Homo sapiens: one gene and its partner. The protein of the gene in region 2 interacts with the protein of the main gene of each other region in a biochemical or structural test. Each region holds a gene or a part of one and is shown on either strand. Other genes may lie near its edges. The genes, in order: PAM16 and DNAJC19.

Region 1 (7,621 bases), on a different chromosome or scaffold from region 2:
ACTCCATGTCCCCAGGCAGGGTTTCCAAGCGCCTCCTAACCCTTCTGCGGGAGGGTTCTGGCCATCTCCCAGTAAACACACAATTCTCCACCGCCGCCTGCAGATTTGGTCCACTCCCCAGCTTGGCATTCACAGCGCCTGGTCTGGCCTCAACTTCTCAACCTCACCTCTCTCCACGCTGCAGCCACACCCTCTGCTCCTAGAGCCGCTCTCATACTTCTGTACTCCTCAGGGCCTTTGCTGTTCTGAGTTCCTCCACCTTGAACATCCTCCCTTCTACCCTGATCCTGTCAAAACCCAACATCCCTCAGGACCTAATATCATTCCCCATCCCCCGGGTGAAACCCTTTCCAGGCTCTCCCATGTATACCTTCCGACAGCACTTTCTTTTTTTTTTGGAGATGGAGTCTTGCTCTGTCGCCCAGGCCGGAGTGCAGTAGTGCGATCTCGGCTCACTGCAGCCTCTGCCTCCCGGGTTCAAGAAATTCTTCTGCCTCAGCCTCCTGAGTAGCTGGGACTACAGGCACACGCTGCCATGCCCGGCTAATTTTTTGTATTTTTAGTACAGAGAGGGTTTCACCGTGTTGCCCAGGCTGGTCTCGAACCCCTGAGCTCAGGTAATCCACCCAAAGTGCTGGGATTACAGGCGTGAGCCACCGTACCCGGCCTAGCACTTTCTTTTTTTTTTTTTTTTTTTGAGACGGAGTCTTGCTCTGTCACCCAGGCCGGAGTGCAGTAGCGCGACCTTCGGCTCACTGCAAGCTCGGCCTCCCGGGTTCAAGCCATTCTCCTGCCTCAGCCTCCTGAGTAGCTGGGACTACAGGTGCCTGCCACCACACCCGGCTAATTTTTTGTATTTTTAGTAGAGACGGGGTTTCACCATGTTAGCCAGGATGGTCTTGATCTCCTGACCTCGTGATCCACCCGCCTGAGACCCCCAAAGTGCTGGGATTACAGGTGTGAGCCACCGTGCCCGGCCAGCACTTTCTTTTCCTGTTAATATACTGTCATGCTGGGTGCGGTGGCTCACGCCTATAATCCCAGCACTTTGGGAGTCCGAGGCAGGAGGACTGCTTGGGCCCAGAAGTTTGAGACCAGCCTGGCAACATGGCGAAACTGCATCTCTACAAAAAATACAAAAAATTAGCTGGGCATAGTGGAGCATGCCTGTTGTCCCAACTACCCGGGAGGCTGAGGCTACTGGGGAGGATGAAATGGGAGGATCACCTAAGCCCCAGGAGGTTGAGGCTGCAGTGAGCTGTGATCGTACCACTGTACTCCAGCCTAGGAGACCCATCTGGGGCAACACAGCAAGACCCCACCTCTACATAAAATTTAAAAATTAGCCAGGTGTGCTGGCACTCACCTGTAGGCCCAACTACTTGGGGGTCTAAGGTAGGAGGATGGCTTGAGCCTAGGAGTTCAAGGCTGCAGTGAGCTAGGATCGCTCCACTGCATCCTAGCCGGGGCGACAGACAGACATCCTATCTCAAAAAACAAACCAAAAAAACCCCATGAGTTTTGGGACAGAGCTGGGCTCAAAAGAGGTCTCTGACACCATGGGATGCATGACTATGGTGGAGTCAAAACTGTCTGGGGCTCAGGTTCCTTATCTGTAAAATAAGGACAATGACAGCAGGACTTCATAAACACTAAATGAGAGACTCTACATAAAGCCTTAGCTCAGGGGCTGGCACTTGTACGCCGTTAGCTGTTACATTATCCTTATTACTATGTTAGTTAAGAAGTGGCTCCCCGAACCAGCTGCAACAGAGTCACTTGGGGAACTTACGTGTGCAGAACCTCCAGGGATAGAGCTCAAGAACCTGAACTTTTTTTTTCCCCCTCTTTTTCTTTTTGAGAGAGTTTTGCCCTGTCGCCCAGACTGGAGTGCAGTGGCACAATCTTGGTTCACTGCAGCCTCTGCCTCCTGGGTTCAAGCGATACTGGCGCCTCAACTTCCCAAGCAGCTGGGATTACAGGTGTGTGCCACCATGCCTGGCTAACATATGTATATATTATGTGTGTGTGTGTGTATATATATATATAAAATACATGATATATAAAAATATATATAACATAATAATATGTAGTATACATAAATGTATACGGTATATATAATACATATATATAATTTTTTTTTTGAGACGCAGTCTCACCCTGTCGCCCAGGCTAGAGTGCACTGGCGGATCTCGGCTCATTGCAACCTCTGTCTCGCGGGTTCAAGCGTCTGTCCTGCCTCAGCCTCCCGGGTAGCTTGGACTACAGGCGCGCACCACCCCACCCGGCTAATTTTTTAAATTTTTTGGTGGAGACCGGGTTTCATCATGTTGGCCAGGCTGGTCTCGAACTCCTGACCTCGTGATCCGCCGCCTCGGCCTCCCAGAGTGCTGGGATTACAGGCGTGAGCCACCGCGCCCAGCCAAACCTGCACTTTTAAAGCTACCCTAGGTGACCTGACAGTGTGGCGCAGGTCTGTTGACTGGCTCTACGTGCCAACGATATCACACAAACGCTCCGTGCTCGGTGTCTCGGGGCCTAGTTCAAGTCCCAGGTCAGCCACTTCCCTGGAAAGGCCAGCTTTCCACTGGGGATAACAACAGGGCAGCAACATCGACTCTGCAGCGCTGTAAGGTTCCAGGGCAGGGGAGGCGCTCACCAGCCAGACTCATGCTCCACCGCTGCCCACGGCTGCTCGCTCACACGCGGGCTAGGCACAGCGCGACCACGTTTGCCCGGCCTCTTCCAGGCAGACGGTTTTCCCTGGCCCTGAGGCCGCCGGTGCCGCCGCTGCCGGCCTCGATTCCCCCGGGTGCAACGCCCCCAGACCATGCTTCCCGCCGGGCACGCAGGGGGCGCACGGCGCCCGCCGCCCAGCCCGGAGCTCGCCGCCCGGCCCCCGGCCCCCGGCCCGACTCGGCTTCCCCTCCCCGGTAGCGCCCGACTCGGGGCTCACCATGGCAGCCGCTCTGCCTCCGGGGCTCAAACTCCGACTTCCTGGCCCCGCGGCCGGGGATCAAGCGTGGTCGGCGGGTCAGAGGTCAAGGAAAGCCGCAGAGAGCGCGTGCGCGATACGGCGCTGGGCATGCGCATTGCCTCAGTCTAAGGGCGGGCCACCGGGAGCGTCTTAGCGGCTCGGGGCGGGGTCGGAGGCGGGGTTTGACTGAGCCTGCGTCGGGCTCTGGATAACTGGGGGCGGGCTTGGGAGGGCAAGGGGCGTTACCGGGAGTCTCAATTGCCCGCGTGCTTACCCCAGTGCGCTGGAGCAGCTAAGCACATCGGTCAGACGTGGGGCGATTTCTGCCCTTGATTTTGCCAAAATATTTGGGAATGCAACATTATATGAAATCAATGAACATAATATGGAGTAGGATGCTAAATTCTCAAAAATACTTTAGAAAATAGAAAACTTCAAAATAGGTTTCATCCACATTCCTCCTGCCTGAGAAGCTCGTTCCCTTCTTCAAATCTTTGCTCAAATGTCACCTCAATGAGGCCCACCTGGACCCCTTAAAACGCCGTGACTTGCCCTCCATGAATGAAAAAAGTAACAGCTTTATTGAGATATAATCCATACACTGTAGATTTCATGATTTTCAAGTGCACAGTCCAATGCCTTTTATTCACAGAGCTGTGCCACTGTCACCACTATTAGTTCCAGAACGTTTTCATCACCCATTAGTCACTCCCCAGCCCCCTCCCCCAGCCCCTGTCAACCACTCATTTTTCTCTCTATGGATTCACAGGTTCCGGACATTTCATAGAAATGGAATCATACAAGCCAGGCGTGGTGGCTCATGCCTGCAATCTCAAAACTTTGGGAGGCCGAGGTGGATCGCTTGAGGTCAGGAACTCAAGGCCAGGCTGGGCAACATGGTGAAACCCCATCTCTACAAATACAAAAATTAGCCGGGTGTGGTGGCAGGTGCCTGTAATCCCAGCTACTTGGGAGGCTGAGTGGTGGATCTCTTGAGCCCGGGAGGTACAGGCTGCAGTGAGCTGTGATCACTGCACTCCAGCCTGGGTGACAGAGTCAGGCCCTGCCTCAAAAAAAAAAAAAAAAAAAAAAAAGGTAAAAATGAAAAATGAAAAAAAAGAAGAAATTGAATCATACAATGTGCAGCCTTTTGTGACTGGCTTATCCTCCCTTCTTGTCTCTATTTTTCTTCCAAGACTCTGATCACCCTCTACCATACCACATAATTTACTTATTTATTTTATTTATCATTTTGAGACAGGGTCTCACCCTGTCGCCCAGGCTGGAGTCCAGTGGCACAATCCTGCCTCACTGCAACCTCCACCTCCCAGGTTCAGGCGATGCTCATGCTTTAGCCTCCTGAGTAGCTGGGATTACAGGCATGGACCACCATGCCCCATTAATTTTTGAATTTTTAGTAGAGACAGGGTTTCACCATGTTGGCCAGGCTGGTCTTGAACTACTGGTCTCAAATGATCCACCCGCCACAGCCTCCCAAAGTGCTGGGATTATAGGCATGTGACACTGTGCCCAACCGGTTTTTTATTTTTAAATTATTTTTCCTTTTTTTTTTTTTTTTGAGATGAAGTCTTGCTCTGTCACCCAGGCTGGAGAGCAGTGGCCCAATCTTGGCTCACTGCGATCTCCACCTCCTGGGTTCAAGTGATCCTCCCACTTCAGCCTCCGAAAGTGCTGGGATTACAGGTGTAAGCCACCGTGCCCAGCCAAAAAAAAATTTTTTTTTTTCAAGATAGGGTCTCACTCTGTTGCCCAGGCTGCAGTACAGTAGCATGATCATGGCTCACTGCAGTCTTGACCTTCCAGCCTTGAGTGATACTTTCACCTCAGCTTTCTGAGTAGCTGGGACCACAGGCATGTGCCAACACATGTGGTTAATGTTTGTTTTTTGTCTTTTTGAGAGCGTCTCCCTGTTGCCCAGCCTGGAGTGCAGTGGCATGACCTCGGCTCACTGCAACCTCTGCTTCCTGGGTTCAAGAGATTCTCTTGCCTCAGCCTCCTGAGTAGCTGGGACTACAGGCATGGGCCACCATGTCCGGCTAATTTTTTGTATTTTTAGTAAAGACGGGGTTTCACCGTGTTAGCCAGGATGGTCTCGTGCTCCTGACCTCGTGATCCGCCTGCCTTGGCCTCCCGAAGTGCTCGGATTACAGGCGTGAGCCACCGCGCCCAGCTAATGTTTGTATTCTTTGTAGAGACAAGGGTTCCCCTATGTTGCCCAGTCTGACCTCAAACTCCTGGGTTCAAGCAATCCTCCCACCTTGGCCTCCCTTTATTTTTATGTTTATTGTTGAGAATCTGTTTCCTTCCACTAGAATGGGAGTTCCTTTTGGGCAAGCATTTCCTCTCTCTTCTCTGCTGTTAGATGTCAAGCGCCTGGAAGAGCATCTGGCGCACAGCATTCGGCAAATGGTGGGATGAAAGTTGGGCCACCTGGAATCCTACTCTACACCGCTGCCCTTCTTCCTCTTCCTCCTGGCCTCCACATTCCTCTCTCTGTGCCCACATTGTACTTCCTTGCCTCGGAAGTGGCTCTCTCCCTGGCTGGCTCCTCATCAGCCTTCAAGTCTTGGCTCTTAGCTGAAAGTCACCTTCTCAGGCCCTGAATTCCCTGCCTCGCTGCATCCCAGTTGCTTCCTGTCCCACAGGTTTTTTTGTTTGTTTGTTTGTTTTTTGAGACTGAGTCTTGCTCTGTCACCCAGGCTGGAGTGCAATGGCAGGATCTTGACTCACTGCAACCTCTGACTCCTGGGTTCAAGCAATTCTCCTCCCTCAGCTTCCCAAGTAGCTTGGATTACAGGCGCTTACCACTACACCTGGCTACTTTTTGTATTTTTAGTAGAGACAGCGTTTTACCATGTGGGCCAGGCTGGTCTTGAACTCCTGGCCTCAAACGATCCTCCCACCTTGGCCTCCCAAAGTGCTAGTATTATAGGCATGAGCCACCGTGCCCAGCCAGTTTCTCTTCTTTACTGCTGTCTTCACACTCTATATGCTCGTGTGCAGTCTGGTTCCCCTGCATAAGGAGGCTGTAAGAAGCTGAAGGTCCTTGCAAGACCTTATCTCTCCTGTCCTTTATAGCATCCCGCCATCCAGAGCACTGCCAGGAACCTGCATGGTGAGCGAATGACTCCCAGCAGTGCGCAGGTGATTGGGCCTTGGGACCAGAGTGAGGCTGAGATAAAGGGGAGCCCAGGGCCAGACCCCTGTCACCCACATTCCTGTCCCCTTCCCTTTCCAGCCAGCCCAGAGACCACAGCAGCACAAGAGGTGGCCAGCTTAAAAAAGTTTAATTGCTGAAAACATCCAAGGCAGGTGCGGGCCAGTCCCTGCGGGGCTCACACCCCCCTTATTGGACCATCAGCTCTGTGATGCCCCCTTCTCCTGGCTACAAACCTGGGAAGTAGGGCAGCTGGTCCCAGGGCCCTGAGACTGGTGCTGCTCTAGAAGGCCTGGTGGGGGGCCAGCCCCCAAGGCCCTTGACCAGAACTGGAACAGCAGGCAAGATGGGGCAGCGTGGGGTGACCAAAGATCCTGGATGAGGCCAATCCAGGCTGGGACCAGCCCAGGTCAGCAGTGAGACCAGGGGAGACAGGGTGCCCAGGGCCTGCCCAGGGACATGCTGCTGACCCCCCGCCACCCTGCACCCCTGGCCACATGCTAGCGGGCAGCTGATGAGCAGCAGCTGACCCCAGAGACAGCAGAGGTGAAAACAGTCCCTGGGAACTGCCAGAGGCCCAGAGGATGTGGAAGTGCCCACGGGAAGGCAGGAGTGCAGGGGTGACATGTGCCGGGGCCAGAGAGGTATCTTCCAGCTTGAGGATGAGCCGTGAGGTGTGCACTAGGAAGTGGCAGCACAGGTGAGGTGGAGGTGACGGGGGCGCAGGCTAGTCCTGGGGCGAAACACCAAGAGGTGGGAGGGAGTCAGGAGGGCCTGGGAAGGGAGGAGGCATGCACCGTGGCATGTGCGAGGGACCGCGCTGCCTGCCGGGAAGTGAGGCCACTCACTACTCACCCACTCGTCCTCGTCCACGCCTTCAAAGGAGTCCTGGGGGAGTGGGTCCTCCCGGTTCCCCAGTTTTGCCACCATGGCATTCAGCAGCTGGGAGAGAGGGCAGAAGAAGGGTAGGTAAGGGAATAGGACTCCCTGTTCCCTCTCCCACTCCAAGAACAACCCTGACAAGGCTGTGAAAAGAACTTTTTTTTTTTTTTTAGACGGAGTCTTGCTCTGTCGCCCAGGCTGGATGGAGTGCAGTGGCGCGATCTCGGCTCACTGCAAGCTCTGCCTCCCGGGTTTACACCACTGTCCTGCCTCAGCCTCCCAAGGAGCTGGGATTACAGGCGCCCACCACCATGCCCGGCTAATTTTTTGTATTTTTAGTAGAGACGGGGGTTTCACCGTGTTAGCCAGGATGGTCTCGATCTCCTGACCTCGTGATCCGCCCGCCTCGGCCTCCCACGGTGCTGGGATTACAGGCGTGAGCCACAGCGCCCGGCCTTTTTGTTTGTTTGTTTGTTTTAGAGAGAGACAAGGTCTTGCTCTGTCACCAAGGCTGGAGTGCAGTGGTGCAATCATGGCTCACTGCAGCCTTGACTTTCTGGGTGCAAGCAATTCTCCTGCCTCAG
Region 2 (3,821 bases):
GTTAATTGAAAGTTAATGAAATACTAAAGAATGTTTTCAAGCAGAAACAGGTCGATCAAGGTTATATACTGACTGGCAGACAATATTGTGACCAAAGGGTCACAGAATCTGTATTTCTCTTAGGAACTTGTTCCTTATTTGCTAATTCAGTGTTCATAGCCACCTTAAAGAACAGAATTACCACAAACAAGAACCAGCTGTACTTTCATGTCTCCTTGTCCCTGGAAATAATTTATCCTGCATAAAAGCCTTAGAAGCTAGTGTTTCATCATACACTAAATCATAACAGACTCCATCAGATTTTAAACGAGGGTATTGGATAGAAAACACAAAGAGCAGATATACCTTTACTTTATAAGGCAGATAAATATTACCTCCACTATTTTTTTAACCTCAAAAGTCCTTGTATCCTCCAATAATTAAGAAACTTATGATGACTTAAGGAAGTTTAGACGGTAGGTAGTATAATTTATCATCTTAGAGCTACACATAAGAAATACTCCTGTTGAGAAATACATACTAGTTTATACCAGATGTTTTATACAGGTCCTCTTAAGATCCTTATATATTTTATGTTAGACAAACAGTAAGTAATTTGCCTTTAAACATCATTTAAATTTATTAGTGTATAAATTCTAAAGAGTCCAAATTAAATATGTTGATATTGAGAACATTTCAGTTTTCAGTTTTGCTAACAGGGTTTAAGCTTAATCATAACAATTGCAGAAGTTTGATTATGTCAAGAAATAGCCAACTGAAGGAATAATTTATAAATGGTCATTACCTTTAAGGGGCTAGCTGAATACAATGTAAATACTCATGCCTGTAATCCCAGTACTTTGGGAGGCTGAGGCGGGAGGACTGCTTAAACCCAGGAGGTTGAGGCTGCAATGAACTGTGATTGTACCAGACCTGTACTCTGAAATCTTTATCATACTATTTTTAATGCATGAAATAAAAATGGTTTATATGTACATAGAATACACACACACACACACCCCTAGGTCAATTTCTTAGGTCTCAGTTGTGGTTAAATTCACTTTTAAATACAAGGTTCCAAGTATCCAAGTTGCCAGGCCAGTTGCCTGTACCTGGAACAGCCTTTCCACCGAATAAGAAGAGTCCCTACTTAAACAGCTTAAGCTAATTTCCATCATACTATTTATCACAGTCTAATTACCAGTTTATCAGTCTCCCATTAAAGTGGGGGCTCCCTGAGAGCAAGGACTGTCATCTTCACTTTGCCTTGAAAAGTAGACATAGGTCCCAAATTATCTGCTAAATGAGTAATGAACAATATTTCTATTCAGAAGGTGTGTGCTTGCCCATAATTAATACGCAAATATTCTAAACTATAATCTGATTTAAAATCCCCAAATTTAAACAAGAAAATTATACCAAGGCTTTGAGATTTAGCTTGTGCTAAATCATTTTTTAAAATTGTAGCTCTGAGGCATTTTATTATAAAAACTTAGTACTCATATACATAAACTAATACGAACTTAAAATTCATCATACATTTACTTCATTTTTTAGCTTGACCTTCTAGTAAATCTTTAGCTTCATTGATTTTGGCTGCTATATAAGGAGATCCTCCTATAGGAAGAAAGAAAAAAGAACAGTTACAATATGGATTCTCAATTTCTGCTTGGTAAAAAGCTACTCTTGTTTCAAGGACTCCAATGCTTATCTGAGGGAGATTTAGCAGAAACAGTGTTTTAATTTTTAAAAAATAACCCTGACACTGCAACTGGATGACCAAATATATGGTAATATATGTGACCAATGAGAAATGAAGTAATTTACGTGGGAGATATTTCTACAAAAATAACACCTTTTTAGAAAGCTTAAACTGATAGAAATAGGATTTCTATCATATATATTAGATATATATGTATATGCCTTTGAACTGGTGTTAGCCTATTCATGATTACAGGTCATAAATGAACATCAATTATACCATGTTATTTTAATACCATGATATTCTCAGAGGCTTCTGAGCTGTTTACTGGAAAGATCCCAGTTTGCTTTACATCCTTTTTCTGTCCAGTTTTTCTTTTCCTGTTATCTACTGTCCCTTCACAATGTCATCTACAGCTGCTTTCCTACGAATCTGCTGGAGGAGTGATTCTCAAAGTATGGTCCTAAGACCAGCAAGAAATAACAGGAAATTTAGTATAAATGCATATTTATGGGGCTCCACTGCCGACCTACTGAGTCAGAAGCCCTCCATATAAAACAAGCTAAATTTCATAAAAGATACTGTGAAGTAGATATCAAACAATTATAACCCTGTTTAAAATGTCAAAACCCTTTTTATTAATGAAAGCCCTCTCCTGTATAAGTAAAAGGATACAAACACTAGAACATGAATTCTGTGGTCTATTTTTTGGTATTCAAAGAAATTCTTGCTTTCCTTCAACACAGCCAAGGCTGCATAGAAGTCTATCACAAACGAATAAATAAATCCCATAAGTTTCTATCTAGGTAATCTCCGTTTCAAGGTATCTAAAATGGATAAGGAAAAATTACATTTTAGTTTTACGAAATTTAACGTTTTAATTATAATAAATGTAGGCCAGAAAAACCCACAAAACATAGTAATAGTAGCACTTACATCTGCTCATTCTGTAAGTAAAGTTTTCACTTAATTTCTTTTAAGACACCAAAAATATATGGCTCCAGCCTAGGAGACAGGACTTACAGATTTAAGTGTTACCTTTCTAATAGCCAGGAATTTGAGATAAAATTATCCCATTAATAACTATTGGTCACACCAACAACATCAACGAGAATTTAATGACTACTTACCTTTGTCAGGATGATTTAAAAGCATAATTCGTCGATGAGCATCTCTTATTTTCCCTTTATTGGCAGTAGGGCTAATTAAAAAAAGAAATGGTATTTACTTCATCCTACTTCTGCATCACATCAAAAAACTGTACATAAAGGCCAATTAAAGACACTGTGAAACTGTAGTAAATTAACACAACAGTATGAAAAGCTGTTTAGAAACCTCAACACACCCAATGCGTATCCTAAATTGGGAAACTACTTAGAAAAGTAAGGCACTCTCAAAAATGTGTTGAACTTGCAGTACCCATTACAACAGTCCTTTTATTGATAAGAAACGCATGTTTAAGGATTTGAAAATGAAGAAGGAAGAGTTTTGTTTTTTTTTTTTTTTGAGATAGTCTCACTCTGTCCCCTAGGCTGGAGTGCAGTGGCTTGATCTTGGTTCACTGCAACCTCGGCCTCCCGGGTTCAAGCGATTCTCCTGCCTCAGCCTTCCGAGTAGCTGGGATTACAGGTGTGTGCCATTACGCCTGGCTAATTTTTGTATTTTAAGTAGAGACGGGGTTTCACCATGTTTGCCAGGCTGGTCTTGAACTCCTGACCTCAAGTAATCCACTGGCCTTGGCCTCCCAAAGTGCTGGGATTACAGACGTGAGTCACCGCGCCCGGTTGAAGGCAGAATTTCACCACAAAAAAAATGTCAGTTACAGAGAACAACACTGAACACTGTGATAATCTGCTGAGGAGTCTATCTTTAAATAAATGAAAAAGTGCCTGTGTTTTAGTAAACACTCTAGGAAAAAAGAAAAAGTGCTTAAGTGCTAGTGTGCCTTCTCATTTGAAGGATTGTTTACATCTTAAAAATAACATGAAGGAACAGTACAGTTTCATTGATTAGAATTGGTAATATCAATCTTCCTAGGACAAAATCCCCCATGACCCTCTCCTATTAAAGGAGAGAAGGTCTTTCTTATATTTCCTCATGGCTCTACAGTGGTAGAAAAATGCTAAAAATATTAGAGATT

What was found.
Region 1: the proteins of DNAJC19 (region 2) and PAM16 form a complex in vitro, tested with the Homo sapiens proteins (one study listed by BioGRID).

The regions. Positions count from the first base shown.
Region 1 is NC_000016.10:4,348,276-4,355,896, forward strand, and holds the start of PAM16 (mitochondrial import inner membrane translocase subunit TIM16), read right to left. Parts: upstream 3,047-7,621; 5' UTR 2,960-3,046; coding exon 2,957-2,959; intron 1-2,956. Other genes in the region: CORO7-PAM16 protein, read right to left, coding at 7,011-7,097; CORO7 (coronin-7), read right to left, coding at 6,883-6,888, 7,011-7,097. UniProt on the Homo sapiens protein: Regulates ATP-dependent protein translocation into the mitochondrial matrix. Inhibits DNAJC19 stimulation of HSPA9/Mortalin ATPase activity.
Region 2 is NC_000003.12:180,983,115-180,986,935, forward strand, and holds the end of DNAJC19 (mitochondrial import inner membrane translocase subunit TIM14), read right to left. Parts: intron 2,883-3,821; coding exon 2,812-2,882; intron 1,597-2,811; coding exon 1,526-1,596; 3' UTR 595-1,525; downstream 1-594. UniProt on the Homo sapiens protein: Mitochondrial co-chaperone which forms a complex with prohibitins to regulate cardiolipin remodeling.